Linked DNA regions of Homo sapiens. The protein of the gene in region 1 interacts with the protein of each later gene in a biochemical or structural test. Each region holds a gene or a part of one and is shown on either strand. Other genes may lie near its edges.

Region 1 (3,657 bases):
TTTTTTTTTTTTTTTGTAGAGATGGGTTTTGCCATGTTGCCCAGGCTGGTCTAGAATTCCTGAGCTCAAGCGATCCACCTGCCTCAGCCTCCCAAAGTGCTGGGATTACAGGTGTAAGCCACTGTGCCTGGCATGATCTGTAACTTTTTACTTGAATGTTTCATTGTTAAAGAATGACAGTACAAATATTACACAGTTAGTCTAGCATAATATAAAGATTAAGGACTTCAGAGTCAAACTTTTGTTTTTCTTTATTCTTGTTCATTATGTAGGGAAAGTTATCTGCTTTCTGCAGGACTCACTCAGCTTTCTCGTTCATGTAAAAGAGACTATAATAGGATTATTCTGGGGATTGAAGGCTATAATTTATAGTAAATATATAAATATAGTAATTACTATTAGTACGAGACAGAATACCTTGATTAACACTATGTCTGTGTCTGGTACTCAGTGTAAGTTCTTACTCAAGACCTATTGAATAAGAAACAAAAAATCATTTTGTAGGAGTTTCTTGAATTAGTTAAGAAAAGATTTATATGATGTCCTTATGGCAGTGTACAAAAATCATTTTCTAGGGGTTTCTTGAATTAGTTAAGGAAAGGTTTGTATGATATCCTTATTTAATATCTGACTATTTAGATGTATTTGCTGAATTGCTGTGTGCAGTACAAAGTAGCAAATAACTTTAAAACTGAATACTTGTTCCAAAATTCTATAAATTTAATAATTAAGCATCCTCTTAAATTTTAGATCTATTAGCAAAAAGACTATGGTCAGTAGAAAGAGCTACTATAATGTTTAAAGGAACTGTAGAGAGGATTCACGAGGCTGATCAGACATGATGGCCTCACTACCTCTTTAGATTCTAGAATTTTATTATTTATTTTCTGGAAATCAGCTATCTCTTAGATCTCTCTACCCCTAAGCCTTCCCACAAAGAATTTGGAAATCCTTTTTAAATTACAATTACAATAACTTGACTTTCTCATTTTCATTTCCTGTTTTAGAGAGGAGAGATTGAATTTGAAGTAGTTTATGTGGCTCCTGAAGTGGATTCTGATGATGAAAACGTAGAGTATGAAGATGAGAGTGGACATCGTTACCGTTTGTACCTTGATGAGTTAGAAGGAGGTGGTAACCCTGGTGCTAGTTGCAAAGACACAAGTGGGGAAATCAAAGTATTACAAGGTAAAAATCACTCTAAAAATTATTATTAACATATTCATTATTATTAAATGTTTAAAATGTGAAGGCCTCAGAATTTCTTCAGTAAAACTGTTTTGTGAGGAAATCAAAGGAATGAAGAGCTTTCCCTTGTTTATTGTTTTATTGTATACTATGCTAACAGTTTATTTACCATATATGTTCTTCTATATTCATCTTGGACTGTTAAGACAAGTACATTACCAGTTACTCTACTGCAAGTGATCCTTGAAAAATAAATAAAATTTTTTCTAGACTCTGAAACAAAGACCAATATACTATTTTGAGTAGATCTATCTTGTAGACTACATTGTCTGTCTGTCTTGATGCAAATTCATCTCTCACAATGAATTTTAAGCTAATTATGAATAAGTATGAAGTATACTGTCACCTTATGATTGCTATTAGAATCAACTTATATTATCTTGGGGATGTTTGGTTTAGTTCCTTTGCTATCATTTAGACATATTTTAAGGAAAAACTCTAGCACTTCCTTTTACATAGAGCAGTGGTCCTCAAATTGTGATCTGTGGATCTCTGAGGGTCTCTGAGATATTTTAGCAGAGTTCATGAGGTCAAAGCTTTTCATAATAATACTAAGACATCATTTGTCTTTTTTTGCTATGTTGATATTTGCACTGATGGTATCTGGTTGATGCAAAAGCAATTGGGGTAAAACTGCTGGTGCCTTAGCACTAATCAAGGCAGTGTTGCTAATACTAGTAACTGTACTAGTAATCATTGTTTTCTTCCTTGCCATCCATTCATAGTAAAAGAAGAAGATACCAATTTTGCTTAAAAATATCTTTGATGAAATGGCAGTAACAGTTAATTTTTAAATATTGACCTTTGAGTACCTGTCTTTTTAATATTCTTTGTGATGAGATGGGAAGTATGCATAAAGCACTTACTCTGCACACTGAACAAAGATGCTGGTTTCAAGGGAAAGTACATAAGTGACTGAACTAGCCATTTTTCTTCATGGAAGACAATTTTTACTTGAATGAATGACTAACAAAGTATGGATTTTCGGACTATTTGGAAGCCATTTTCTTAAAAATGAACAAAGTCCATCACTTCAGGAAAGACAACTGATAATATTTATTGCCAGTGATAAAATGTGAGCTCTCAAGTGAAAGTTAGAACTTTGTAAAACATACGTTGATCACCATGAGCTTGACAGCTTCCTAACACTTAAGCTTTTCTGATGAGATTGATGATGATATTAATGAATGTGATTTTTTGATACAGTAAAGTGAAATGTGTCAACTTTTGGAATTGCTACATAACTTCATGGTCCAATATTTTTCAAATCACCAGTAAATGAAGTTATAAAATTTTGCATGGGAAAAGATCCATTCAAAATGCAAGATAGGCAAATGGATTTTAATATAACAGAGTGTGAAAAGTTCACTGATAAGGTTTCAAATTCCACATTGTCAAATTTTTGTATAATATCAGAGAACAATACTGACAGTTATCTGAAAAGGCTGTTAAAATACTCTTCCATTTAGCAACTACATATCTGTGTGAGGCTGAACTTTCTTCATATACTTGTAATAGATTGAATGGAAGCAGATATATGAAAATACAGCTATCATCTACAAAGCCATTGAAGAGATTTGTAAAATTGTAAAATAATGCTACTCTTCTAACTAGAATTTTTTTGTTTGGAACATAGAGTTATTTGTCATTAGACAAATGTTATTTATATTAACCTTCTGGATTTATTGTCATTTTTAACAAAGAAATGAATTTTTTTTTAGATTTTTCAATTTTACCTACTAATATGGGAAACATCAGTAGCTATAATCCACATAAACAGAAGCTTCTTGGAGTCCTCAATGCTTAGTATAAAGGCCTCCTGAGACCAAAATGTTGAACTCCTGGCATGGAGTTTTATGGTGAACTGATAAACTGTTGCACTTTTGATAAACTTGTGTGTTGTAAACTGTCTGCACAAAGATAGCAGTAGCAGTTACTGTTTTCACTGTGCATCTTGAGCAAAACTATTGTGGCAGTATGTCAAAACCTTAATTGTTGGGCTGCTCTCCATATGGTTTCATTGTATTTCACACTTGCTGTTTTCTGTCGGGATTAGAAAGCCTGTCTCTTCCTTTTTTTTGTAACTGAGGCTAGAAGTCTTCTCTGTCACATATGCAAATTGCAGACACTTAAAATGTGACTCAACTAAAAATTTGTGTGTATATATCTTTTAACTGACTCACTTAAAAAAATGTATCTATTGGTTATTGTTTCACACGTCTATACTTTATAGATATATATATCACCTAAATAGGTGATATAGTCAACACTTATTTATTTATAAGCCTATTATTTATTTTATAGATGATCAGAATTCGTTTTAAGTTTTAGCTAGACATCATCTTGCCAACAAATTACATTTTAAGCAATTAACTAGTATATGCCTCAGTTAACTGAAGTTAATGTAAT
Region 2 (2,801 bases), on another chromosome or scaffold:
AAAGTAAATCAGGAAAACAACATCAAAAAGGAACTACTTTGATATTTTTGAGGCTAAATGGAAACATTAATAAAGGAAGTTGGACTTATAGAAACATTGTTGTTATTGAATATTTGCTGCAATAAGCAAGACAAGGTGTAATAATAAGAAAAAGCTGGATCAGCAAGGTTGACAAGACAAGGTTGCAAATTATAATTATTGTTTATACAACTGTTCACTGAAGGGCATAGACCAGCGCCATAGAGGCTAAGAAGAATGTACTCTGTAAAAGAATGACTGGCTCTTCAGGATTTCTACAACTTACACCTGTTCCTGTTCTCCAGAACAATGTTTACTAATGCTTACTATCTCTAATCTGGTTTCCATGATCTATCCATACTGAGAAAGGAGGGTTTGGATAAGTAAATAAAATACTATCATAATCAGAGAGATATAACTTCTCCTGTGTTTTAATAAAATGGCATTCTGCTTCCTACCATCTATATTGACAAATTTACTAAAGTCATATCAAACCTAGAGAGCTGACAAGCCAGGCCCTGGCTGGACCAGATCACATCATACATACCAATTCTTGAGGCCCCTGTGAATAGCATAATTACATTGCTTATAAAAAAAAAAACTTGAAATACCATTTCTTTGTTATTCTGCAATTTTGCCTCTAAATCAGCACCTCAAAAATTAGGGCCATCAGTCCTAAATGGCAGTTACCTATAAAGGAATTCCCATAACTTTGCATACCCACAGAGAATGATCTCCATTATACGTGTGTATTTTCATGGTCATTTGGAGACACCAGGCCAGCTCCAGCAACACTGCACAAGTTTTAATGAGTTCACTGATGGACGGGCAGACATAGAGTCTCTGGGGCCTTGTTTAAAGATGTACTGGAAAACCAGTCCTGGAACTTCTGTCATTGGAGAAAGGTGGAGGAGATCAGCTCTGATATGCTGCTATCTCTCTTGTCTAATCCAGTAGAAGAAAAAAAATGCTTCAAGACAGGGCCAGGAATTGGGGTCAGGACAGAATCTAGGGAGTCATCAGAGTTTTGTCTTCTTGGTCTCTAGTTTGATCATGTTCCCCTGGATGTGAGGAATGTGCTTATCTGCTGGACCCCGCATATCCTCTGTCTTTACAGGAACATAGTAGTAGCCCATGATGGAGAAGATCAGGCAGATCACCAGCAGGAGGCAGGAAAACAAAATGAATTCGGCCCACTGCAGGGGGAAATAAATATGAGAAGAATATGGAGAAACCTGAAACTAAAGAGATCTTTACAGGATGAGGAGTGGGGAGCAGACTGACCTGGGATCACCAGTTTAACCAGACTTTTGCTGGACAAAGACTGGGTTCACTGGCCTCTCCTCACATAGGTATATTGTAGTCATTATTGCCACTTACATATGTCTATTTTCCTGGTAAAGTCTGTATATCTAACCCATTTCATGTCACAGCACTGAATGGGGAATGTGGGAAGCAGAGAGATGGGGGAAAGGGAGAAGAGAAAGCTGGAGGAAAAACTTGAGTAGAAATGAATCCTGCTTCCCTCAGATCCATACCTGTACCAGGCCACTGAACTGTGCCACAACAAGCACGATGATATTCCCAACTGCAATTGTCAATAGCCAAGCTGCCTGGAGCACAGATTTCATGCTAGAGGGAGCCTGGGGATGACACAAGTTTGAAAGTAAACAAACCCCCTTCACTGCCCTCATGCCCCATGCATCCAGGAAACTTCTCCCACAAAAGCTTCCAAGTTAGAACTTCTCTTATTAAGTTCAGCTATCACATTGATTCAGAGGGTGTTAATAATGTAAACAGTAAGAATAAGATGAAGCTCCTAACTGAATATATTTAAACTCATTATGTCATATAATCTTCATTACAATCCTAAGAGATAAGTTCTATTCGTATTCTTATACATTTAAAAAATAGTATTACAGACTGGGCGCAGTAGCTCAAGCCTGTAATCCTAGCACTTTGGGAGGCCAAGGTGGGCAGATCATCCAAGGTCAGGAGTTAGAGATCAGCCTGGCCAACATGGTGAAACCCTGTCTCTACTAAAAATACAAAAATTAGCCAGGAATGGTGGTGTGCGCCTATAATCCCAGCTACTCAAGAGGCTGAGGCAGGAGAATCGCTTGAGCCGGGGAGGCAGATGGAGTCTCGCTCTGTCGCTCAGGCTGGAATGCAGTGAGCTGAGATCGCGCCACTGCACTCCAGCCTGGGCGACAGCATTACAGAGATAGTAATTTACTTGCTCAAGGTTACACAATAGGTCATGCAGCCAAAATTTGAACACGGGAAGTCTGACTCTGCAGCTCTTCATTTTAATCTTTAATCTCTTTCCTAGAACCCCAAAATCATAGACTCCCATGCTGTACTGTCATGACCTGGGGAGTTAAGATGTTCAGGTCATATATGTTCAGGGTCATAAATAAGGTACCCAAGGCCAAAAGAGATAACATACCTATTTAAGTCAGTGCTAGAATTAAAATTCATTGTCCTTCAAGCAATGCCTCAATTTCTACCTTCTATTTGCAAAAACTTACCTGAGAATAAGAAAACTCAAGACCTGTGACAGAGAACATGACCTCCCCAGCTGTAACCAGGGCATATTGTGGTAGCTGCCACGCAATGGACATTTTGTTGGCTGGAATGTCTTCAATCTTCCAGGCCTGAAGACCCTGATTGGTGTTCTTAGGGAAAGAGAAAATGGAAATGGACTTGTCAGTAGTCTCAAGTAAATATTTCTAACTACAGCATTCTACGATCTTATATCCATCCTTTTTGTATTTTCATTC

Evidence for each region.
Region 2: the proteins of GOPC (region 1) and SLC15A2 interact in a test that uses a peptide from one of them, tested with the Homo sapiens proteins (one large-scale study listed by IntAct).

Annotation. Positions count from the first base shown.
Region 1 is NC_000006.12:117,564,385-117,568,041, reverse strand, and holds part of GOPC (Golgi-associated PDZ and coiled-coil motif-containing protein), read left to right. Parts: intron 1-1,007; coding exon 1,008-1,188; intron 1,189-3,657.
Region 2 is NC_000003.12:121,939,244-121,942,044, reverse strand, and holds part of SLC15A2 (solute carrier family 15 member 2), read right to left. Parts: intron 2,697-2,801; coding exon 2,550-2,696; intron 1,662-2,549; coding exon 1,557-1,661; intron 1,215-1,556; coding exon 1,038-1,214; 3' UTR 1-1,037. UniProt on the Homo sapiens protein: Proton-coupled amino-acid transporter that transports oligopeptides of 2 to 4 amino acids with a preference for dipeptides. Transports neutral and anionic dipeptides with a proton to peptide stoichiometry of 2:1 or 3:1.